Linked DNA regions of Homo sapiens: region 1 is linked to region 2. Evidence: fine-mapped expression QTL. A gene starts in region 2. The other region holds a variant in brackets. All regions are shown on one strand. Distances are from middle to middle. Region 1 overlaps SLC7A7 (solute carrier family 7 member 7). Region 2 holds the start of SLC7A7 (solute carrier family 7 member 7).

What was found.
Region 1: its variant is fine-mapped to the expression of SLC7A7 in whole blood (INTERVAL, PIP above 0.99).

What each region holds. Positions count from the first base shown.
Region 1 is chr14:22,780,604-22,796,667 of GRCh38, reverse strand. All of the region lies in intron 2 of SLC7A7 (solute carrier family 7 member 7), which reads left to right. Among named protein-coding and RNA genes, the nearest start is that of OXA1L, 22 kb to the right of the region's middle. RefSeq lists an enhancer at 85-154 and a silencer at 13,061-13,231. The variant A/G (reference allele first, on the strand shown) is at 11,729.
Region 2 is chr14:22,809,721-22,819,517 of GRCh38, reverse strand. SLC7A7 (solute carrier family 7 member 7) reads left to right here and starts at 4,083. Exons shown (of 10, transcript NM_003982.4): 1 at 4,083-4,198; 2 at 6,078-6,618. The coding sequence starts at 6,120. RefSeq lists enhancers at 3,994-4,093, 4,282-4,788 and silencers at 6,096-6,155, 6,176-6,235.

The sequences.
Region 1 (16,064 bases), 26 kb after region 2:
CTACCAGGACATTTTTACCATCTATGCCTTCAGTATGTCCCCTGTACCAGTGAGTCAGCAGTACCTGGCAGTTCAGGGCTCTTTGTTTACAGAGTACTGTTCTTCAGGGATCAGGCAAAGATTCTTCGTGTCATACACATGTGGCCACAGTGAATTGCATGTAGTGGGTTCTTCAATAAATGTTGGCTGGATGAATGAACAGAAGATATGATTCCAGGTTCAACTTGGCTGAGAAGGGTATTTCGTGCTTTTGCCTTTCAGGGTGCTGGTGGGGGCTGAGGGTTGCTGTGGGAAGGGGGCAGACAGCTTACCCTGAGTCTGCCAGAGCCGCTGTGGGCTGTGAAGGACTTTGGATCTCTGTGTGTCTGAGAGCTTTGGCCAGGTGTCCTCGTGCAGCTTCTCCTGGTACCAGAATGACTGATCTCATGTACTTGTGGCTAATGAGGTGGAACAGTCAGATGCTGGGCCCCCCAACGGACTTTTGCCCTTTGAACCTTCTACTTGGAAGCTAGTTGCCTTTTTCAGAGGGCTTTTCCCAAGAGCCATCTGAGGGTGGAGGTGAAGAAACTTACCTTTTCTGGCCCATATTCACCTCAAGAAATAGGCTTTCATCAGAGCCTTGGGTTCTAGTGTGGGTTTGTTGTGAACTTTGGAACAAACTCTTGACCAGCAGTGAAGGGGTAGACCTTTATGCTGCTTTGATCATCAAGTCCCTTTGGGGGCTCATCCTTGCTCTCTTCCTTTCTATGTTCTATGTTTCTATGTTCCTTTCTTTTTCTCTCTGCCTCAGAAGAAGCTGGGCAGGTAGCCTAGAGGAGGTTGCGGAAGATGCTGGGCAGCAGTGGGTCCTAACTCTGGCTGTGGATTGGAATCATCTGGAGAATTAAGAAAACAAGGCCGGGCACGGTGGCTCACGCCTGTAATCCCAGCACTTTGGGAGGCCGAGGCGGGCAGATCACAAGGTCAGGAGATTGAGACCATCCTGGCTAACATGGTGAAACCCGTCTCTACTAAAAATACAAAAAATTAGCTGGGTGTGGTGGCAGGCGCCTGTGGTCCCAGCTACTCGGGAGGCTGAGGCAGGAGAATGGTGTGAACCCGGGAGGCGGAGCTTGCAGTGAGCCGAGATTGCACCACTGCACTCCAGCCTGGGCGACAGAGTGAGACTCTGTCTCAATTAAAAAAGAAAAGAAAAGAAAAGAAAAGAAAAGAAAAGAATAGAAAAGAAAGAAAGAAAGAAAGAAAGAAAGAAAGAAAGAAAGAAAGAAAGAAAGAAAGAAAGCAAGCAAGCAATACTCAGATTGGGCACGGTGGCTCACACCTGTAATCCTAGCATTTTGGGAGACTGAGGTAGGAGGATGGCTTAAGCTCAGGAGACCAGTCTGGAGAACTTGGTCTCTACAAAAAAAAAAAAAAAAAATTAATTGGGCATGGTGGTGCATGCCTGTAGTCCCAGCTACTCAGGTGGCTGAGGTGGGAGGATTGTTTAAGCCCATTTGGTCCAAGCTGCAGTGAGCCAAGATTGTGCCACTGCATTCCAGCATGGGCAACAGAGTGAGACGCTGTCTCAAAAAAAAAAAAAAAAAAAAAAGAAAGAAAGAAAACAATACTCATCACTCCCACTCCCTGACTACATAAATCTGAACCACTGGGGAGAAGAATGAGATGAGAATTGGCTTGGAGAACGAGAATTAAGGAAGCAGAAAAATTGCTTTTGAGGAGAATTGATGAGGGTCTTGTGTCACTAGAGGTGGGAAAAGCCGTTCTCAATTGTCACCATGCTTCAGAGTCACCTGGGGAGTTTTAAAAACATGCCGATGCCTGGGTTCCACCCCAGAATTTCTGACTTCATTGGTCTGGGTGGGGCCTGAGCACTGGACTGTTAAAGCTCGTCAAGTGATGCTAGTTTGCAGCCAGGATAGAGGAGCCTTGAGTTAGCAAAGGGTTGCGACTGTTCTGATACAGCTGCTCTGTGTGTGGTTATTTCCGTAGGTGATTACCTAAGGAAACACACCCAGAGAAGCAGATCCTCAGATTAGCCTGCGAAACTGTCTCAGGTCTCCTGCATCAGAACCTCTGGGGTGTGGGGCCCTGAAGTTGTGGGTCGACAAATTCCTCAGGTGGTACTGATGCTCACTCAGGCTTGAGATCTGGTACCTGAGGACTTGAACTGACCCCTAGCTAAGCAAACCAATAAGGATTGGATTTACACGGCTTGGAGAAGGGACTCACGGGGTTGTTACTATAAGACCCTCCTGGTACAAACTGCCTGCTTGCTCCCTCAGAGTGGTCAGAGCCACAGGGACCAAAGTGCTGACTGAGTTCCAGGAAGGAGAGCGGGAGGACTCTGATCCAGTGACCCACAGGGATTGCATTTGGTGTGTCTTCTTGCCAGAGGTGTAACTGCCCAAGGGGTTCACCTTGCCCACTGCCTAGACAGAGCCAATTCTTCAAGACAGGGATATTGCAATAATGAGTAATTCACACAGAGCCGGCTGTGCGGGAGACCGGAGTTTTATTATTACTCAAATCAGTCTCCCCGAACATTCTGGGAGCAGAGTTTTTAAGGATAACTTGGTGGGTCAGGGGAAGCCAGTGAGCCAGGAGTGCTGATTAGTTAGAGATGAAATCACAGGGAATCAGAGCTGTCTTCTTGCTCTCAGTCAGTTCCTGGGTGGGGGCCACAAGATCAGCTAAGCCAGTTTATTGATCTGGGTGGGGGCCAGCTGATCCACCAAGAGCAGGGTCTACAAAATACCTCAAGCACTGATCTTAGGAGCAGTTTAGGGAAGGTCAGAATCTTGTAGCTTCCAGCTGCGTGACTCCTAAACCATAATTTCTTTTTTTTTTTCGAGATGGAGTCTTGCTCTGTCACCCAGGCTGGAGTGCAGTGGTGTGATATTGGCTCACTGCCACCTCCACCTCCCGAGTTGAAGTAATTCTCCTGCCTCAGCCTCCCTAGTAGCTGGGGTTACAGGTGCACGCCACCACACCCAGCTAATTTTATTTTTTATTTTTAGTAGAGACAGGTTTTCACCATGTTGCCCAGGCTGGTCTTGAACTCCTGACCTCAGGTGATCCGCCCTCCTATGGCTCCCAAAGTGCTGGGATTACAGGCATGAGCCACCGTGCCCAGCCCTAAACCATAATTTCTAATCTTGTGGCTAATGTTAGTCCTACAAAGGCAATCTAGTCCCCAGGCAAGAAGGAGGTCTGCTTTGGGAAAGGGCTGTTATCCTCTTTGTCTAAATTATAAACTAAGTTTCTCCCAAAGTTAGTTCAGCCTATGCCTGGGAATGAATAAAGGCAGCTTGGAGGTTAGAAGCAAGATGGAGTCAGTTAAGTTAGATCTCTTTCACTGTCTCAGTCAAAATTTTGCAATTACAGAGGCTCTCACCCATGACACCTGAGTAAGCGAATTGGTTGTTTCTTTAAAATTTTTATTTTAATTGGCTGGGCGTGGTGGTTTACGCCTGTAATCCCAGCACTTTGGGAAGCCGAGGCGGGCGGATTACGAGGTCAGGAGATCGAGACCATCCTGGCTAACACGGTGAAACCCTGTCTCTACTAAAGAATACAAAAAATTAGCTGGGCTTGGTGGCGGGCGCCTGTAGTCTCAGCTACTTGGGAGGCTGAGGCAGGAGAACGGCATGAACCCGGGAGGCGGAGGTTGCAGTGAGCCAAGATCGCACCACTGCACTCCAGCCTGGGCGACAGAGCGAGACTCTGTCTTTAAAAAAAAAAAAAAGATATTTTTCTTTTCTTTTCCTTTCTCTCTCTCTCTCTCTCTCTCTCTCTCTTTCTTTCTTTGAGACGGGGCCTCACACTATCATCCAGGCTGGAGTGCAGTGGTGCAATCTCGGCTCACTGCAACCTCCGCCTCCTGGGTTCAAAATGATTCTCCTCTCTCAGACTCCCAGGTAGCTAGGATTACAGGCGTGCGCCACCACGGCTGGCTAATTTTTGTATTTTTAGTAGAGACGGGGTTTTGCCATGTTGGTCAGGCTGGTCATGAACGCTTGACCTCAGGTGATCCGCCCACTTCGGCTTCCCAAAATGCTGGGATTACAGGTGTGAGCCACCACCACGCCTGGTCAAAAATGTTATTTTATTTTCTGAGACGAAGTCTTGCTTTGTTGCCCAGGCTGGTGTGCAGTAGCATGGTTATGGGCTCAATCCTGCACTCAAGTGACCTTCCCACCTCAGCCTTCCAAGTAGCTAGGACCATCAGTGTGCACCACCAAGTCCAGCTAATTTGTAATTTTTTTGTAGAGAAAGGGTCTTGCTATGCTGCCCAGGCTGGTCTCCAACTCCTGGCCTCAAGTGATCCTCACGTCTTGGCCTTCCAAAGTGCTGGGATTATAGGCATGAGCCACTGCACCTGGAGTAAAAGGTTTCTGTAGTCTGAAAGGTAAAATAATTTGAAGGCCATCTGCTATCTGAGAGAAATAACAGCACCTAGGGAGAGTGGAAGAAATAATGTATCAAAGAAGCCAGGGTGAAATTGTGATTTCAAGGTGTAGAGAGTTTCCAGGCCGGGCGCGGTGGCTCAAGCCTGTAATCCCAGCACTTTGGGAGGCCAAGGCGGGTGGATCACGGGGTCAGGAAATTGAGACCATCCTGGCTAACATGGTGAAACCCCGTCTGTACTAAGAGTACAAAAAAATTAGCCGGACGTGGTGGCGGACGCCCGTAGTCCCAGCTACTCGGGAGGCTGAGGCAGGAGAATGGCGTGAACCCAGGAGGCGGAGCTTGCAGTGAGCCGAGATGGCGCCACTGCACTCCAGCCTGGGCGACAGAGCGAGACTCCATCTCAATTAAAAAAAAAAAAAAAAAGGTGTAGAGATTTTCCCAAACCAACATTAGACAAAACAAATGGGGATGCAGCAAAGAAAAGGAAGAAGAGACTTGAAATCTCTGGGTTTAGGTAACAGATATGAGGCGTTTCCAGAGAGCTTATATCTGGACCTTCTGAGGAAACAGCAGTGGTAGAGTATTTTGGAGACACCAGGGTATTAGCAGGCCTGAGTATGCCAGTTGTGGGGTTTGGCCTTCCCCCAGGAATAGTGTGCATCTGACTATACACAGACCCAGCCTAACCTAGAAATGTGCAGTTTTTCTGAGCAACATGTGACCAAGAGCTTGCTCACACCAATTAAGCCTAGGGACTGCTATCCTTCTGCTAATTGCTGTGGGATGAATGATGTCACCAGTCAGAAGATAGCTGAGATGTCTCACTGGTGACGTGAAGTTTAAAGTAGCAAACTGAGTGGCAGGTGGAATTTTCGTCTCTTTGTCAGCTGAAGGCTGTGTATGTGAAAGAAAAAAGAACACAGAACAGAGTTCCTAACCGTAAATTCTAAGATTCTAAGATACCAGAAAGATAAACTCCTGGTAAGGGATAGAGGAGGTTTATAGGGATTGGGAGAGATGTGTATAATAAGGCTTTAGAATGGAAATTTTAGAGGCAAGGAGAAAAATGCCTAGATAAAAGTATAAATCTGGGTATTTTGGAGACTACATAGCAGAGAATAAAGGCAGAGAGGAGTTGCTCAGTAACGCATTTGGAGAAAATGGGATGGAAGATCAGAAATGATGCTTTTGAACTCTTATCTACAAATATTACAAGTAAGGCTAATAAACGTATTTGACCTTTTTTTTTTTTTTTTGTGAGACGGAGTCTCGCTCTGTCACCAGGCTGGAGTGCAGTGGCGCGATCTTAGCTCACTGCAACCTCCGCCTCCTGGGCTCAAGTGATTCTCCTGCCTCAGCCTCCCCAGTAGCTGGGACTACAGGCGCACACCACCACACCCAGCTAATTTTTGTATTTTTAGTAGAGACGGGGTTTCACCATGTTGGCCAGGATGGTCTCAATCTCTTGAACTCGTGATTCGTCTGCCTCCGCCTCCCAAAGTGCTGGGATTACAGGCATGAGCCACTGTGCCCGGCCCGTATTTGACCTTTTACTGAAAGGAGGAAACAATTTCATAGGCATCAGCGATATTTGATTAGAATATGATAATGAAAGAGTATACTTTGTTCAAAAATGATGATTTGCTAGAAGAGCTGGGATTCATGTAGTACATTAAAGAGAGAGGTACATACTTGTTTGAGGATCTGCTATCATAAGGGATGCCTGCCTTCTTTGCATAAGGTCACATTTAGATTCTTTTGATTGCAGTGAGAGGGAAATTTCAGTACACCAAGATCCAGTGAGCTGTCAAGGGTTTCACTTCCCCTTTCTCCATTTTTCAACAAATGTAATGAATAGTACCACCCAGTGCTACTTCCAGTTTTCTGCCTGCAGTTAGGTTTTTTTTTTTTTTTTTTTTTTTTTTTTGAGACAGTCTTGCTCTGTCACCCAGGCTGGAATGCAGTGGTGCAATCAAGGATCACTGCAGCCTTGACCTCCCCAGGCTCAAGCAATTCTCCCACCTTAGCCTCCTGAGTAGTTGAGACTACAGGTGCACGCCACCAGGCCCAGCTAATTTTTGTATTTTTTGTAGAATCAGGGTTTCTCTATGTTGCCCAGGCTGGTTTCAAACTCCTGAGCTCAAGGGATCAGCCCACCCTGGCCTCCCAAAGTGCTGGAATTACAGGAGCGAGCCACTGTGCCCAGCCAACATATGAGTTTTCTATTGCTTCTCTAACAAGTTACCACCAATTGAGTGGCTGAAAACAACACAAATTTATCATCTCATAATTCTGGAGGTCAGAAGTCTGAAATGGGTCTCACTGGGCTAATATGAAGTAGCACTGTGTTTCTTTCTGGAGGCTTAAGGAGAGGATCCATCTTCTTGCCTTTCCCAGCTTCTAGAGTCTCATGGACCCTTCCATTTTCAAAGTCAGCAGTAACTGGGAGAGTCTTTCTCATATTGTACTACTCTGACATTGACCTTTCTGCCTCCCTCTTTCATCTTTAAGAACTTTTGTGATTACATTGGGCCCACCCAGAGAATACAGAATGATTTCCCTGTTTTGTCACTTGATTAGCAATCTTCATTCTGTCTGCAACTTTTTTCTTTTTTTTTTTTTTTTTTGAGCCAGAGTCTTGCTCTGTTGCCCAGGCTGAAGTGCAGTGGTGTGATCTTGGCTCACTGCAACCTCCGCCTCCTGGGTTCAAGCAATTCTCCTGCCTCAGCCTCCTGAGTAGCTGGGATTATAGGCACCCACCACCACACCCAGCTATTTTTTGTATTTTTAGTAGAGACGGGGTTTCACCGTGTTGGTTAGGCTGACTCATGTTGGTTAGAATTCCTGACCTCAGGTGATCTGCCCGCCTTGGCCTCCTAAAGTGCTGGGATTACAGGCATGAGCCACTGCGCCTGGCCTCTATCTGCAACTTTAATTCTCCCTTGCCATGCAATATAACATGGCTCACAGGTTCCAGGGATTAGGGGGTGGACATCTTTGGGGGGCCATTAGTCTACCTACCACAAGTGATAGCCCAGCTTTCCACCGGAGGTGGATGAGCAGCACTCTGAAGTGATAACTTAAGGTGGATTCTTGCCCAAATTCTAGGCTTGTAAGTTAAATCTGGTTAGTGAAGTACGAGCAGAAGGGTGGGAAATCATTAGTAACGTGTATGAATTCACTAAGAACAAGCCATACTCTGCTAACCTCACTTTTTGGTTCAATTTTAATTTTTTTATTCAAATATAATATACAGAAGGAACAGTGCAATCTCATAAGTTTATGGCTTAATGAATTGTCACTAGTTGAGCACATGTGTAACTAGCACCCTTGAGCCCTTCTTATGCTCTTCCCAGTCCCTGCCTCTCCACCCCACACAAAGGGAAATCACTATTCTGACTTCTAGTAGCATTGATTAGTTTTCTCTGATTTTATGTAAATGGATATAATCTATATGTACACTTTTGCATCTGGCTTGCTTATTATGTTTGAGATTCTTCTGTATTTTTGTCTGTAGTCGTAGATTGTTCACTTTTTTTTTTTTTTTTTCCCAGACAGAGTCTCACTCTGTCGCCCGGGCTGGAGTGCAGTGGTAGGATCTTGGCTCACTGCAACCTCCACCTCCCGGGTTCAAGCGATTCTCCTGCCTCAGCCTCCTGAGTAGCTGGGATGACAGGTGCCCGCCACCACGCCCAGCTAATTTTTGTATTTTTAGTAGAGACGGGGGTTTCACCATGTTGGCCAGGCTGATCTCAAACTCCTGACTTTGTGATCTGCCCGCCTTGGCCTCCCAACGTGCTAGGATTACAGATTGTTTATTCTTAGTGCTGTTTAGTATTTATTCAATCTACTGTTGCTGGGCATTTGGGTTGTTTCTAGTTTTTGACTACTGCAAGGGTGTAACTATGAATATTCTACATAAATATATACTAATTTGATTTGAATTGTTTGATAGCATCATTAGATTGTTAGAGCAGAGGCATGTGTATGCAGATTTCGGAGAGGTTCGTGGCAAATTCTCATGATATTCTTGTTGACAAGGTAGACTAGATAAAAATAAAGTTTGGTAGATTCTTAGTTGGCTGAATAACATTGTGGAATAATGACAAATACAGAAAGGTCTACAGTGATAGACTATACAGCTCTGTTGATCTTAGTCAACATTTTAATTTTTTTTTTTTTGAGACGAACTCTCGCTCTGTCACCCAGGCTGGAGTGCGGTGGCGCGATCTCGGCTCACTGCAACCGCCGCCTCCCGGGTTCACGCCATTCTCCTGCCTCAGCCTCCCGAGTAGCTGGGACTACAGGCACCCGCCACCACGCCCGGCTAACTTTTTGTATTTTTAGTAGAGATGGGGTTTCATTGTGTTAGCCAGGATGGTCTCGATCTCCTGACCTTGTGATCTGCCTGCCTCGGCCTCCCAAAGTGCTGGGATTACAGGCGTGAGCCACCGTGCCCGGCCTAACATTTTAATTTTTTTATTAAAAAAATTTTTTTTGAGACAGAGTGTTGCTCTGTCACCTAGGCTGGAGTGCAGTGGCACAATCTTGGCTCAGTGCAACCTCTGCCTCCTAGGCTCAAACAATTCCCATGTCTCAGCCTCCTGAGTAGCTGGGACCACAGGCGTGTGCCATCACACCCTGCTAATTTTTGCATTTTCCTTTTAGTAGAGATGGGGTTTTGCCATATTGCCAGGCTGGTCTCGAACTCCTGGCCTCAAGTGATCTGCCTGCCTCAGCCTCCCAAAGTGTTGGGATTACAGGCGTGAGCCACTGCTGCCAGCCCATGTCAACATTTATTTATTTATTTATTTATTTTGAGACGGAGTCTCACTCTGTCGCCCAGGCTGGAGTGTAGTGGTGTAATCTTGGCTCACTGCAACCTCCGCCTCCTGGGTTCAAGCGATTCTCCTGCCTCAGCCTCCCGAGTAGCTGGGACTACAGGTGCCCACCACCACACCCGGATAATTTTTGTTCTTTTAGTAGAGACGGGGTTTCACTATGTTGGCCAACCTGGTCTCAAACTCCTGACCTCAGGTGATCCTCCCTCCTCGGTCTCCCAAAGTACTGGTATTACAGGCGTGAGCCACTGCGCCCGGCCCTAGTCAACATTTTTAGGGTGACTTCAGTGAAGACTCAGGAGGTATGCTGATCAAATTTGCAGATTTCACAAAATTAAAGAAGGGATTTGAACTAATAAAATGAAGAAGGAAAAATCCCATATCATATAAGAATAATGCATAAAAACTCAGAGGAAAGTCACTAAGACTAAATATGAAGTCCTGTATCTGGGGGGAAAAAATCACTTTTTTTGTTTTGGAGAAAGGATCTTACTGTGTTGCCCAGGCTGCAGTGCAGTGGTGCGATCACAGCTCCCTGCAGCCTTGACCACTTGGGCTCAAGCGATCCCCCTGCCTCAACCTCCCAAGTAGCTGGGACCACAGGTGTGTGCCACCATGTCTGGCTAACTAAAAAAAATGTTTTGTGGAGATGTGTTCTCACAATGTTGCCCAGGCTGGTCTTGAACTCCTGGACTCAAGCGATCCTCCAACCTCGGCCTCCCAAAATGCTGGGATTATAGGCATGAGCCATCGCACCCAGCTAAAAAAATCATTTTTATAGGTCCAGAAAGAGGGGAGGAAAGATCTCATCACTTTGAGGTGGGAAAGAAAGGAGTTGTAGTAAACAATGATTTCAGGTTGAGACTCCGTAGTCGGCAACACGGTCTGGAGTTTTCTGTGTGGGGTCTTGCATTTCTGGGGAAATACTGACACAGTGAAGTATATGCAGTAAATGACAAAGTGAAATAAATGACAGTCCTGGGATGGTGAGGGGTCTGGAAGCCACATTTGCTCCACAAGGGGTTGTAAAATCTGGGTTTTAGCCTGAAGGAGTAAAGACTCAAGGGGACAGGATGTTCATCCTTTTTGTTTGTTTTTAGATGGAGTCTTGCTCTGTGGCCAGGCTGGAGTGCAGTGCCGTGATCTCGGCCCACTGCAACCTCTGCCTCCCGGGTTCAAGCAATTCCCCTGCCTCAGCCTCCCGAGTAGCTGGGACTACAGGCTTGTGCCACCATGCCTGGCTAATTTTTGTATTTTAGTAGAGACAGGTTTTCACCATGTTGGGCAGGCTGGTCTCAATTTCCTGACCTCGTGATCCACCCGCCTTGGCCTTTCAAAGTGCTGAGATTACAGGCGTGAGCCACTGCACCTGGCTTTTTTTTTTTTTTTTTTGAGACAGAGTCTCGCTCTGTGGCCCAGGCTGGAGTGCAGTGGCGCAATCTCGGTTCACTGCAAGCTCCGCCTCCCGGGTTCACGTCATTCTCCTGCCTCAGCCTCCTGAGTGTCTGGGACTATAGGCGCCTGCCACCACACCCGGCTAATTTTTTGTATTTTTAGTAGAGATGGGGTTTCACCGTGTTAGCCAGGATGGTCTTGATCTCCTGACCTCATGATCCGCCTGCCTCAGCTTCCCAAAGTGCTGGGATTACAGCGTGAGCCACCGCGCCTGGCTTTTTTTTTTTTTTTTGAGATGGAGTTTTGCTTTTGTTGCCTAGGCTGGTGCAATGGCGAGATCTCAGTTCACCGCAACCTCCACCTCCCGAGTTCAAGTGATTCTTCTGCCTCAGCTTCCCGACTAGCTGGGATTACAGGCATGTGCCACCACGCCTGGCCAATTTTTGTATTTTTAGTAGAGACGGAGTTTCTCCATGTTGGTCAGGCTGGTCTCGAACTCCCAACCTCAGATGATCTGCCCGCCTTGGCCTCCCAAAGTGCTGGGATTACAGGCGTGAGCCAGCGCCTGGCCGTGATATTCATCTTTAATGTTAAGAAGGGCCATTGGGTGGAAGAGGATTTAGCTTCATTCTGTGTGGAGACAGAGGAGGGGTCTGGCACTACTGGTAGAAGCTGGGAGGAAGACGCTGTTGGCTTAGTAAAAGGAAGAGCTATAGATCACTTTATTTTATTTTATTTTTTGAGATGGAGTCTCACTGTGTCACCCAGGCTGGAGTGCAGTGGCGTGATCTTGGCTCACTGCAATTTCTGCCTCCCGGGTTCAAATGATTCTCCTACCTCTGCCTCCAAGTAGCTGGGATTACAGGCATGCGCCACCACACTCAGCTAATATTTATATTTTTAGTAGAGACGGGGTTTCGCCATGGTGGCCAGACTGGTCTCAAACTCCTGGCCTCAAGTGATCTGCCCGCCTCAGTCTCTCAAGGTGCTGGGATTACAGGCGCGAACCACCGCGCCTGGCTCTATAGATCACTTTTAAAATGGAATGACGCCGGGCATGGTGGTTCACGCCTGTAATC[A/G]TAAGTTTTGTGTGTTACATTGTGTGTATTTAAAGGTAATAGTGCTTACAGAATTGTGGGTTTAATGTTCTTTTTCAGGAAATGTTTCATTTAGGTGTCTAAACTAAACCTGAGCATCTGATCCAGAGTGGGCCTGCAAGCTTTGTTCTGTTCTGGATCCACCTGGTCTGGTGCTTTCTGGCTTTTAGTTCTAGCGCTGATGCTGGGCCTTACCACTAGAACTAGTCTCCTACTCCCGGGGACCGTATGTAGGCTGGGTTTGATGATCCATTCAGGAACATCTTTTTAGATGGTTATAGGAGTGACTTCTCTTTTTTTTTTTTGAGATGGAGTCTTGCTCTGTCACCAGGCTGGAGTGCAGTGGTGTGATCTTGGCTCACTGCATCCTCCGCCTCCTGGGTTCAAGTGATTCTCCTGCCTCAGCCTCCCAAGTAGATGGGACTACAGGCACACACCACCATGCCCAGCTAATTTTTGTATTTTTAGTAGAGACAGGGTTTCACCATGTTGGCCAGGATGGTCTCGATCTCTTGACCTCGTGATCTGTCCACCTCGGCCTCCCAAAGTGCTGGGATTACAGGCGTGAGCCACTGCACCCGGCCACGAGTGACTTCTTTGCAGATTCTTTTTTTCTCCCCCTGGGGTCAAAGCAGGAGTGCTGCTGCACCGAGTCAAGGGTCAAAGGTGATTTCAGGTTATCCTCTTATAGACTTGGCCCAGTGTTGGGTGGGGATTGAATTGCCCCTAGAGGTAGAAGGGGAGGGCATCTCTGCCCTTGAGGTTAACTTGCAGTTGCCTCCATATTATCCTAACCCCATGGTCCCCTCCTGTCCTTGGCCCTGAAGCAGGAGGTTGGGCTCCACTTCAAGAGCAGTGCACTTAGCTGGGCTCTGGGGCCAGTGGTCAGCTGTATCCGCTGAGGTGGGGACAAAAAGCCCTGTCAGCACTGCTGCCTGCCATACCCATTTCCTGCTCCCACAGTCAAGAGGCCCTGGAGGAAGCTAGGCTTTGAGGAAGAGGAGGGCTAGCTCTCTTCAGGCAGTTCCCTCTGCTCCCTGGTTTCTTTCTGTAGGATTCCCTTCCTCATTCAAACTGAGCCTTCTGTGCTCAGTACAGAGAGCAGATCAGGGCTAGAAGGTGGGTCAGAGAAATCAGGCTCAGGAGTGGGGGAGGTGGGATACTGGTGGACAAAGAGAGGGATACAAATGGATGGATAGAGAAGTAGAGAAGAGACTGGGCACGCCACGCCGGTGACTCACACCTGTAATCCCAGCACTTTGGGAGGCTGAGGCAGGCGGATCACCTGAGGTCAGGAGTTTGAGACTAGTCTGGCTAACATGGCGAAACCCTGTCTCTACTAAAAATACAAAAATTAGCTGGGCATGGTGTTGAATGTCTGTAATTCTAGCTACTCGGGAGGCTGAGGCAGGAGAACCGCTTGAACCCAGGAGGCGGAGGTTGCAGTGAGCTGAGATCGCACCACTGTACTCCAGCCTGGGGGACGGAGCAAGACTGTCTCGAAAAAAAAAAAAAAAGAAGTAGAGAAGCAATAGGGATTAAAATGTAAACAAGCCACCCAGGTGCCATGGCTCTTCCCTATAATCCCAGTTACTCCTCAGATAGCTGAGGTGGAAGGATTGCCTGAGGCCAGGAGTTCGAGACCAGCCTGGGCCACATAGCAAGACCCCGTCTCTAAAAAAATTAAAACAGCCAGGCACGGTGGCTCACACCTGTAATCCCAGCACTTTGGGAGGCTGAGGAGGGCAGATCACAAGGTCAGGAGTTCGAGACCAGCCTGACCAACATGGTGAAACCCTGTCTCTACTAAAAATACAAAAATTAGCCAGGTGTGGTGGTGGGCACTTGTAGTCCTAGCTACTCAAGAGGCTGAGGCAGGAGAACTGCTTGAACCCTGGAGGCAGAGGTTGCAGTGAGCTGAGATCGCACCACTGCACTCCAGGCTGGGTGACAGCAAGACTCCATCTCAAAAAAAAAAAAAATTAAAACAAATTAGCTGGGCATGGTGGTGCACACCTTTGATCCCAGCTACTAGGGTGGCTGAGCTGGGAGGATCCCTTGAGCTCAGGAGTTCGATGCTGCAGTGAGCTATGATTTCTCCACTGTACTCTGGCTTGGGTGAAAGAGTGAGATCCCCATCTCCAAAAAAAAAACAAAAAGGGACGGGTGTGGTGGCTCACGCCTGTAATCTCAGCATTTTGGGAGGCCGAGGTGGGCGGATCACCTGAGCTCAGGAGTTCGAGATTAGCCTGGCCAGTATGGTGAAACCCCATCTCTACTAAAAATACAAAAATTAGCCAGGCATGGTGGCACACACCTGTAGTCCCAGCTACTCGGGAGGCTGAGGCAGGAGAATTGCTTGAACCTGGGAAGTGGGGGTTGCAGTGAGCCAAGATCATGCCATTGCACTTCAGCCTGGGTGACAGAGCAAGACTGTGTCTCAAAAAATAAATAAAATAAATAAATAAATAAATAAATAAGTCAATAAATAAGTAAATAAAAAAAAATAATAAAATATAGGCCGGGCGCGGTGGCTCATGCTTGTAATCCCAGCACTTTGGGAGGCTGAGGTGGGTGGATCACCTCAGGTCAGGAGTTTGCGACAAGCCTGGCCAACATGGTGAAACCTCATCTCTACTAAAAATATAAAAATTAGCTGGGCATAGTGGCGCACACCTGTAATCCCAGCTACTTGGGAGGTTGAGGCAGGAGAATGGCTTGAACCCGGGAGGCAGATGTTGCCATGAGCCGAGACCACGCCATTGCACTCCAGCCTGGGCAACAAGGGTGAAACTCTGTCTCAAAAAGAAAAAGAAAAATAAATAAAATAAAATATAAACAAGCCATGTATTTCCATTTCAGAATCTGCTGTGGTAGCAGGTGGTGAATTGGTTGCTTATCCCTCCTTTTCCCTGCCTACATCCCTGGACAGAACTGAGAAGAACCTTGTGGCACACAGCTCAGACTCTGAGTCTGAACTAGAGCTAGTCCTGTAAGCTTATTCCAGTTTGGTGTTATGACTCATGGTTACCCTGCAGGGAATCATAAATTTGTATTTGGGGATCCCATTTTCCTGACAATGTGGCAGCATCCTTTGTGTCTGGTGTTTCTACTTGGAAACCTGGCTATGTTGTGGTTATGAGCCAGCCGCAGAGCCTAGGATAAGGGCAGAGGTTACAAGCTGGGGAGAAGGGGCACTAAGCTGTTGAGTGGCTGGAGGCTGGAGTCCAGTGGGGAGTAAAGGATGGGTGACTGGCTGAGGAGGAGTGACAGATTTGAAAGATTTGTGGAGGGCAAGATACAGCCACTTTGGTCATTTTGTGGGGTGCTGCACACTTGTGTCTTAAATTATTAACTTAGCACTGGGGTGGCCTGGAGCTGTGGGTACATTTTTGCCCAGCCCTGTGATAAGGTTTGTTGTTTATTAGGCAGAAAGGCAAGCATTTATATAGGACAGGAATGTGCCTTCTCAGGAAGAGCAGAAAGGAACTTGGGCAGTCAGTAGAATGAGGGTGGTGGTGGAAGGGAGGGTGAGAGAGAGAAGATGGGGCAGCTGTTCTGAGAGGCCAGACTTCCCTGCTTCTCAGGATGAAGTAGCCAGAATGTGGTGAGGCCAGGACACCACAAAATAGGAGGACTAGCGACACCAAGGCCACACCACTGCCAGGAGAACTCAGAGGGTGTTTCTGACTGTGTTGGTGGCCTGAAGTAGGCAAGAACTGTACTAGGCCTCATTCTCTTGACTGGTAAGGCAGGGTGATGTTGACCTTGCCCTTGGAGCCCTTGGGAGAAGGGCTTTAAAGTTAAGCCCTCCTTATAGTGTTCCAGTTGCTGAGCTGGGAAGGAGGGAGCAATGAAGCGATTCGCTATGCTACCAGTGGGAAGATCTGTATTTTTTTTTCCAACTTTCTTCTCGGCCACATTCTGGGGCTACTGGTCAACCTCACAGCATGCGTGAGCCTCCCTTGTTGAACTTCTTCAAGTAATTCAAATTCAAGTCGTAGATTGTAACTTTTTTGTTGGGGGAGGGATAATGGACTTGAGATTCTGATAAAAGCTATGATCCCTTTCTAAGAAAAGATATGAAACTTTTTCTTAGGTATGTCTGTATTCATATGGACATAACACTTTGAAAGAGAATTTCGAGCCTCATGGAGGCCCTAGTTAAGAACCCTGATAAAAGGTACTTTTAAAACCTGTACTTCTGAGTAGAAGGACTGGGGGAATGTGTGTGGCTCTTACTTCTCTATTGTCCCATCAGGAAAAATGCCCTGTCCCCATTCTACAGGAACCACTCTTAGCTGCAAGAATCTTTCCA
Region 2 (9,797 bases):
CTCCCTGGGCTGAACCTTCTGCCCAGAGACTTCAGCCCTTCCTTAATGGAAGCCCTGGCCACAGGAGTAAACAATTTCTTTTTTGTTTCACTTTTTTTTTTTTTTTTTAAAGAGACTGTCTTAGCCACAGTGGAATATAGAAAAACAAACAGAGAACTGGGGAGGGAGGAGCTGAGCTTCTAGCTTGGAGTGATGGGGAAATCTAGTCATACCAGAGTGTATCTGTTTTCTGTTTCTGTTGTTAGGGGAGGCAGCACAGACTGATTGGAGCCAGGAAGGCAGGACATGGGGTCTCTGGGAGAGAAAGTGTGTTCTTATAGTAGTTCCCTGAGCTTGGCTGAGGAGCCAAGACCCCGAATTATGTACTAGTTCCTGGAGAAATTGTGTTTTGGTGTTGTCATTCGAGGGTGAGGTTAGGGTGAGGGGCTCCATTGGCTGTCCTGCCCAGCACTGCATACTGGAGGCCCTGCTGCCAGTTTCTGAATCAAATTTCTTCCACAAGCTGTAGGATGAGTGTGTTGTCCTGTAATCTTCACTGGGTGTTCAGAGATGAATGCATCTCAGACAGGGAAAGGCAACAAGGGCTGCTGTTATCTTATGGGGTTTCTCATGTAAAACCTGGGGTGGGTCAGGCACGGTGGCTCACACCTTTAATCCCAGCACTTTGGGAGGCTGAGGTGGGAGGATCACGAGGTCAGGAGTTCGAGACCAGCCTGGACAACATGGTGAAACCCCATCTCTACTAAAAATACAAAAATTAGCTGGGCGCGGTGGCGGGCACCTGTAATCCCAGCTACTTGGGAGGCTGAGGCAGGAGAACCCGGGAGGCAGAGGTTGCAGTGAGCAGAGATTGTGCCACTGCACTCCAGCCTGGGGGACAAAGCAAAACTCCATCTCGGGTAAAAAAAACCCAAAAACCAAAAAAAAAAAAAAACCAAAAACCTGGGGTAGAAGAGCCCCTTTGGGAGAGCCTAGGGGTGTTGCTGGTCCCAGGCTGCCTGAATGGTGGGGCTGCCTGAATGGTGGAAGCATTACCCTAAGACCCAGGGTCTCAGGGAGAAATGTGAGCTGCCAAAGATGGTGCCTTCTTGTCCAGGGTGCTAGGTAGTGGTTGAGAAAAGAGGGGGTCTTCATGTTCTCAATGCATGGCAGCCTCCCTTGCCTAGTGCGCACGGGCAGACTGAAGTAGGTTAGAGTCCACTAGCACTTCCTGGTGCTACCACTAGGGCGTGCTGTTTGCTGGAGTGTGGGTTTTACCCCCAGCAGATTTCTGTCTCAAAATTCCACGGATAGGACTTCACTTTTCAGATGCTACCAGTCAGGAATGAAACCCTGTACACTTCTCTCTCCATTCCCCCTCACAGTTTTCCCTTCCTTTGTCCCTCCTTCCTTCCTTTCTTTTACGTCATATTAGGACACATGCCCACCCCTTGGTGCCAGTGAATTTGGTCTTAAAAGGGCAGGCGTGATGATGTGTTTGTGTTTTTTTTTTTGTTTGCTTTAGAAGTGGGCACCCTAGCAATAGCAGCACTGCCAAGAGGACTTGTAATCACCTCTTATCCCTGCAAAGAATGAGAAAGGGGAGGGGCAGCCAGGAAGGAGATTAACAAACTTTGTTGGAGCCTTTCGTCTAGGCTATAGACTGAAGGATGACAGAGGCTTTCTTTCTTTTTAATCTAGTCTGCTTACATCTTCCCCCAGGTAATTCATGTAGATAATTCCTGTCCAAAAGCAAGGTCTAAGGTGGCATCGGTGGCTCACGCCTGTAATCCCATCACTTTGGGAGGCAGAAGCAGGTGGATCAGTTGAGGCCAGGAGTTCAAGACCGGCCTGGCCAACATGGCAAAACCTCGTCTCTACTAGAAATACAAAAATTAGGCTGGGCACAATGGCTCATGCCTGTAATCCTAGCACTTTGGGAGGCCGAGGTGGGCGGATTGCCTGAGTTTAGGAGTTTAAGACCATCCTGGTCAATGTGGTGAAACCCCGACTCTACTAAAAACAAAAAAGATTAGCTGGGCGTGGTGGTGTGCACCTGTAATCCCAGCTACTCGGGAGGCTGAGGCAGGAGAATTGCTTGAACCCAGTAGGTGGAGGTTGCAGTGAGCCGAGATTGCACCACTGCACTCCAGCCTGGGCGACAGAGTAAGTGTCTGTCTCAAAATAAATAAAATAAAATAAAATAAAATAAAATAAAAATACCGAAATAAAAACACAAAAATTAGCCAGGTGTAATCCTAGTTACTCAGGAGGCTGATGCATGAGAATTGCTTGAACCAGGAGGTGGTGGAGGTTGCAGTGAGTCAAGATCGTGCCACTGCACTCCAGCCTGGGGGACAGAGTGAGACTCTGTCTCAAAAAAAGAAAATAAATAAAAAAAAAAAAAAATAAAAGGAAGGCCTAGAGACTAAGGCAGGCCAGGGGGATGGGGAGATGGAGAGATAGTATACTTGTGTGATTAAGAGTATATGAGCTCTGGAGGTTCCATGAGATAATGTGCTTAAGTCCTTAGCAGTGTGTCTGGCCCAGTAAGTGCTCAATAAGTGATAGCAATTATTATTACAGGAGCATTTTGGAGAAAAGGAGAGTCTCCTCCAGAAGGATTTCAGATCATTGTGAGCCTGTCTTGGGAGAAGCATGATCTCTGGGAACGCTCACACCAGAATCCTCCTCCTAGATTAAATTAAAAGTTTAAAGAGCTAGAATGGGAGGATGTATGGTAGAGATGTCTCCCAGAGATATTTAGATCTCTATTCTCTGGTTGTAGAATAACCAAAGAGGGTTAGAACAGATAGGAGAAGAAACAGACAGTTGGATTTCAGAATGGATAGGGTCTATTTCTGTTGGTAAAAGAGACTCAGAATACCAGATTTAAAGTAAATAATAAAGATAGCATAAACTATGTGATTTCCAAAAAGTGCTCAGCTTCCTCTGCCTGTTCTGGGCCTGTCTGTCCAACAGAATTCAGTGAAATCTGATTTCCTCATATTCTTTTTTAATTTTTTTTTTTTGAGATGGAGTCTTGCTGTGTTGCCCAGGCTGGAGTGCAGTGGCCTAATGTGGGTTCACTGCAAGCTCCGCCTCCCGGGTTCATGCCATTCTCCTCATTCTCCTGCCTCAGCCTCCCGAATAGCTGGGACTACAGGTGCCCGCCACCACGCCCGGCTAATTTTTATTTTTTTGTGTTTTTAGTAGAGACGGGGTTTCACCGTGTTAGCCAGGATGGTCTTGATCTCCTGACCTTGTGATCCGCCTGCCTCAGCCTCCCAAAGTGCTGGGATTACAGGCGTGAGCCACCGCGTCTGGCCTGATTTCCTCATATTTTTTAGGAAAGTGGAGTCAACTTATATTTGAGGAAGGCGTTTATAGGAATTTATGCTTATCCCAGAGATCTTGGTATGTTTTGTCAAGAATGAAAAGGCACGTGGGTCTGGTGGGGATGCAGTCAGATATTTGATCTCTTGACTGTGTTTCTTTTGAAGTAGTCTGAGGCTCAGACTTTGGGGCAGTGGCCCAGGCTTGGAGGCAACCCCCCAGTCTCTCTTTGCATGGGGAAGTGTGCAGAGTTCTCTTAGAACACCCAGTCACATGGTGTAGAGACTGCTCTTACACTTCCTGTAATCTCAGCATGGGAACAAGCCTTTGTGTCACACTGTGCAACCTTCCTCCCTTTCTTAAATGCTTGGGGTGAGAGAGAAGAGAGGCTAGGGTGGGGCATGGAGGACACAGAGAGAGAGAGTGCTGTGTATTCCTTCCCCGCTACTGTCCTGTCCTCAGCTAACTTGCTCTGGGACAGCTTCCCCAGGGCTACAGATACTGCACTCAGCTGACTGTCCTTTCTTCTGGGCCCCTGGTCCCAGAGCAGAGCTGACAAAGGAGATTCCTGAGAGAGCACCTTCTTATCACAGAAAGTGCTGAGCCAAGAGCTCCTAGCTGCCCCTTTTGCAGATGTGAAGGGCCAGTGAACCTTGGACCCAGATGGTTGCTTAATACTCCTTTCCCCCTCCCTCACTCCTTCCTTTGCGGGCTGCCTCACCTCCTCCACCCTTCTTGCTTAAATCCATAGGCATTTGTCTGGCCTTCCCTTTTACTGCTGGCTGGGAAGGAGGAGCATCAGACCACAGATCCTGGAAGGCACTTCTCTCCCTGACTGCTGCTCACACTGCCGTGAGAACCTGCTTATATCCAGGACCAAGGAGTGAGTGTGCGTTCCACCCTCTTCTCATCTCCACTTACCTTGCTAACCCTCCTCTTTGCTGCTGTGCAGTGTCTAATCGCTTCTTCTCCCGAGTGCCTCTCACCCTAACATCTCTCCATTGCTTGACTAGCCTCTCCCATTTTCCTCTCAGCTGTCTCCTGTTCGGTGTTTTCCAGCATGTGCTGCCTGGCTGCAGCTGTCTCCCTGCCTTGGCTCGGGGTGATATCTCTCCAGCAGCAACTCTGGGGTAGGGAGTGGCCATCAGCTGCCTCCAATCATCCCTAGGTTTTATGGTACATTGGATCGCCCTTCTCTCATTCATACTTTTTTGGGTGATTCAACGATGCTGATGTGAGGGATCGATAGCAGGAGGCTTAGAATACCAGAGAATGGGAAAGGAAAAGCAAGGAAAAGATAATAGCCTGTCTTCTTTCAGGGTGAAGTGGGTCTACTTGGGCTTTGCCAGGGCTGAAGACTCCAGCTAAGGGTTAAGGGATGCTCTTTGGGCAGGAGGATGGTTGTGGGTTTCCAGCAGGTTTCTGAAGCCTTTAGTTTTGGCAGACGTAGAGTCCTTGGGGAAAAGAGCAGTGTCATGAGACGCTCCCACAGATTAGCTGCTGGTAGGGTCAGTTCCTAATGTTGTACCTCAGCACAGGTGATCCCTGAAGCTGAAATTGGAGGGAAGACGGGTTTTGGATAAGGCTGAAAACTCGGGGTCAAGCCATTATAGTTATTTTCTGGGAGCCGCCACACTGCCCCCATGCCTGTCTTGTATTATAGCAGGCTCAGAGAGAACCAACATTTAGTGTTTTGTTTTTGATTTTGTTTTTTTTTTGAGACAGAGTTTTGCTCTTGTTGCCCAGGCTGGAGTGCAATGGCCCAGTCTTAGCTTACCGCAACCTCTGCCTCCCGGGCTCAAGTGATTCTCCTGCCTCAGCCTCCCAAGCAGCTGGGATTACAGGCATGTGCCACCACGCATGGCTAATTTTTGTATTTTTAGTAGAGACTGGGTTTCTAAATGTTGGTCAGGCTGGTCTCGAACTCCCGACTTTAGGTGATCTGCCCGCCTTGGCCTCCCAAAGTGCTGGGTTTACAGATGTGAGCCACAGCGCCCGGCCCAAGATTTAGTTCTCTATTTGGTGAGTCGGGTGGGCAGCAATGTCCTAATGATGAGAGACAGATCCTTTCTCTCTGGCGAATGAGTGCCTTCTCTTAAAAATTCAAGTTGGAGGCTGGGCAAGGTGGCTCACGCCTGTAATCCCAGCACTTTGGGAGGCCGAGGCGGGCGGATAACCTGAGGTCGGGAGTTTGAGACCATCCTGACCAACATGGAGAAACCCCATCTCTACTAAAAATACAAAATTAGCTGGGTGTGGTGGTGCATGCCTATAATCCCAGCTACTTGGGAGGCTGAGGCAGGAGAATCACTTGAACCCGGGAGGCGGAGGTTGCAGTGAGCTGAGATCGCGCCATTGCACTCCAGCCTGGGCAACAAGAGCAAAACTCCATCTCAAAAAAAAAAAAAAAAAATTAGCCACGCGTGGTGGCAGGTGCCTGTAATCCCAGCTACTTGGGAGGCTGAGGCAAGAGAAGCGCTTGAACCCGGGAGGCTGAGGTTGCAGTGAGCCGAGCCGAGATTGCACCACTGCACTCCAGCCTGGGCTACAGAGCGAGACTCTGTCAATAAATAAATAAATACATAGATAGATAGACAAATATTCAAGTTGGGGTTGTTTTGATGAGTGAGCTGGAGAAAAGGTTATTTGGAGGTCTCCGCATTGGTTGGTGAGCTGCCCGTATTACCCTGTGTTGGAGGCGGGTAGAGGTTCTATGTAATTGCCAACCACCTAATCTATAGCATCATCTTTCTTCCTTAAAGGGCAATGCCAGGAAGCTGGTGAAGGGTTTCCTCTCCTCCACCATGGTTGACAGCACTGAGTATGAAGTGGCCTCCCAGCCTGAGGTGGAAACCTCCCCTTTGGGTGATGGGGCCAGCCCAGGGCCGGAGCAGGTGAAGCTGAAGAAGGAGATCTCACTGCTTAACGGCGTGTGCCTGATTGTGGGGAACATGATCGGCTCGGGCATCTTTGTTTCCCCCAAGGGTGTGCTCATATACAGTGCCTCCTTTGGTCTCTCTCTGGTCATCTGGGCTGTCGGGGGCCTCTTCTCCGTCTTTGGGGCCCTTTGTTATGCGGAACTGGGCACCACCATTAAGAAATCTGGGGCCAGCTATGCCTATATCCTGGAGGCCTTTGGAGGATTCCTTGCTTTCATCAGACTCTGGACCTCCCTGCTCATCATTGAGCCCACCAGCCAGGCCATCATTGCCATCACCTTTGCCAACTACATGGTACAGCCTCTCTTCCCGAGCTGCTTCGCCCCTTATGCTGCCAGCCGCCTGCTGGCTGCTGCCTGCATTTGTAAGTGGGGCTGGGGTAGGAGGTGGTGGGTGGAGGGCTGGACAGAGGCTGGGATGTGAGTGCAGTCTGGGAGTAAGAAGGAGATAGAGAGGAATGTCTCTGACAACATATATATATATATATATAGTTAAAGTATGCTTTGTGTGAAAATTCAAACAGTACCACAGTGTATCGCAAAAACACTCACCTTTTCCCCAGCTTCTCACAGTAAGCACTATTAGCAGTTTGCATATTCTTCCTGATTTTTTTTTTTTTTTTTTAAAGAGACAGGTATTTTGCTCTGTCACCCAGACTGGAGTGCAGTGGTGTGATTATACCTTACTTCAGCCTCGAACTTCTAGGCTCAAGCTATCCTCCTGCCTCAGCCTCCTGAGTAGCAGGGACCACAGGCACACTGATTTTTTTTTCTTGTTCCTTCAAGAGATGTAGTTTTGGCAGGGTGTGGTGGCTTATGCCTGTAATCCCAGCACTTTGGGAGGCTGAAGTGGGCAGATCACCTGAGGTCAGGAGTTCGAGACTAGCCTGGCCAACATGGTGAAACCCCATCTCTACTAAAAATACAAAAATTAGCTGGGTGTGGTGGCAGGTGCCTGTAATCCCAGCTACTCAGGAGGCTGAGGCAGGAGAATCGCTTGAACCCAGGAGGCAGAGGTTGCGGTGAGCCAAGATCGCACCACTGCACTCCAGCCTGGGCAACAGAGTGAGACTCTATCTCAAAAAAATAAAAATAAAAAAAAAAGAGGTGTAGTTTTGTTCTTTTACAAAAATGAGGTCATACTAGTCTACATGTAATTCTACAGTGTGCTTTTCCTCTAGCATTATCAGTGACATTCTTTTCTACTTACAGATCTACTTTTTAAAAAATGCTTCATATTATTTCATGTGAATTTTAAGGATGCATAGTAGTTTATTTATCTAGCTGGTCCTCTGTTAATGGCCATGTACGTTGGTTTCAGTTTCTCAGTCTTACAGATAATGCTCCAGTGAATATCTTTTTGCAGCTGCATGAGTATTTCTGTAGGCTGGATTCTTCCTTTTTTTTTTTTTTTTTTTTTGAGATAGAGTCACTCTGTCGCCCAGGCTTGAGTGGTGCAATCTCAGCTCACTGCAACCTCCATCTTCTGGGTTCAAGTGATTCTCCTGCCTCAGCCTCCCTAGTAGCTGGGATTACAGGCATGTGCCACCATGCCTAGCTAATTTTTTTGTATTTTTGGTGGAGACGGGGTTTCACTGTGTTGGCCAGGCTGGACTCGAACTCCTGAGCTCAAGTGATCTACCTGCCTTGGCTTCCCAAAGTGTTGGGATCACAGGCGTGAGCCACTGCACCCGGCCTCTGTGGGCTAGATTTTTAATACTGTCATTTCAGTCCACCTTGGCTTTTTCTCCATCTCATAAATAAAACATTATTTAAATCTGTACATTCAGTAAAGCCATTGGAGGTGCTGAGATGATGATTCTCCATAGCCCCATCCCTCAGATGCCACTATTCTTGAAAAATGCCCTTCCAACCTGGGAGAGCCTAGGACCTTAGAGATGCCTTCCACCCTGCAACTGTGAAGAAGCTCAGACATTCTGTCAATTTGAGGGGCAGCTGCTCTAGCAGTTGGGGCACAGGAATTTTGCACCAGGTGCAATTGCTCATTGGCTCACCGCTCTCCAATCAGTTTGTGTCCTTTTTTCTTTCAATTTCTGTATTGCCCCATTCACTCCTCAACTTCCTTTCCAGCTTCTCTGATTTTACTGTTGTGTAGAGAACTGGCTGTCTTCTGTGGGGTCCTTCTGTGTTTTGTGTGTCCTTGTGTCTGGCCTGGACTCATCTCTGCATATGGGATGTTTGTCATACATGGCAACAGTCAGGGAGGGGTGGAAGGCACTGCTTTGTGTTGCAAGAAGGGGGTTTTCACTGAGGTTTTTTTTTTCCGAGACGGAGTTTCACTCTTGTTGCCCAGGCTGGAGTGCAATGGCACAATCTCGGCTCACCACAACCTCTGCCTCCCGGGTTCAAGTGATTCTCCTGCCTCAGCCTCTCAAGTAGCTGGGATTACAGGCATGTGCCACCACGCCTGGCTAATTTTTGTATTTTTATTAGAGACAGGGTTTCTCCATGTTGGTCAGGCTGGTCTTGAACTCCCGACCTCAGGTGATCCGCCCGCCTTGGCCTCCCAAAGTGCTGGGATTACAGGCATGAGCCACTGTGCCCAGCCTTCACTGAGGTCTTAAATATGATCTGTGATTTCTCTTGCATTACTTGCAGATGATCTGGTAGGTTGCTTACTGGCAAAACTAATTTTAGGATCTATTGGTCTTGGAGCACCCTCAAATGTGGGCATATGGTTAATTATATCATGTGCAGAGAAGGATCATTTCATCTAAGTAATATTTCTAAGATGGCTGCATTCCTTTAAAATACCAGAAATCTATTTTTTTTTTTTTTTTTGAGATGGAGTTTCGCTCTTGTTGCCCAGGCTGGAATGCAATGGCGTGATCTTGGCTCACCGCAACCTCTGCCTCCCAGGTTCAAGTGATTCTCCTGCCTCAGCCTCCCGAGTAGCTGGGATTACAGATGTGCTACCATGCCCGGCTAATTTTGTATTTTTAGTAGAGATGGGGTTTCTCCATGTTGGTCAGGCTAGTCTCGAACTCCGGACCTCAGGTAATCCGCCTACCTCGGCCTCCCAAAGTGCTGGGATTACAGGCATGGGCCACCTTCCCGGCCTTAGAATTCTATTATTTTAACTATCTTTGTCTGTGTCATTTCTGACAGCTCTTGTTCCTCGATTCTGACCTTGTGCCTACCTCTGCCAGTCAACCCTTTTTAATTTTCTGCTGTTGCTGCTTTTTTTTTTTTTTTTTTTTTTTTGAGACAGTGTTTCCCTCTTGTTGCCCAGGCTGGAGTGCAATGGTGCGATCTCAGCTCACTGCAACCTCCGCCTCCCGAGTTCCAGCGATTCTCTTGCCTCAGCCTCCCAAGTAGCTGGGATTACAGGCGCCCGCCACCACGCCAAGCTAATTTTTTGTATTTTTAGAAGAGATGGGATTTCACAGCCACTGCACCTGGCCAATTTTCTGCTTCTAATTTGGGTATAGAGACATACATGTTTAAATCCTCATTCACCCATGTACACATTCACGTGCCTGTACATCCTTGTAAGAATACATGCAAAGGCCGGGTGCAGTCG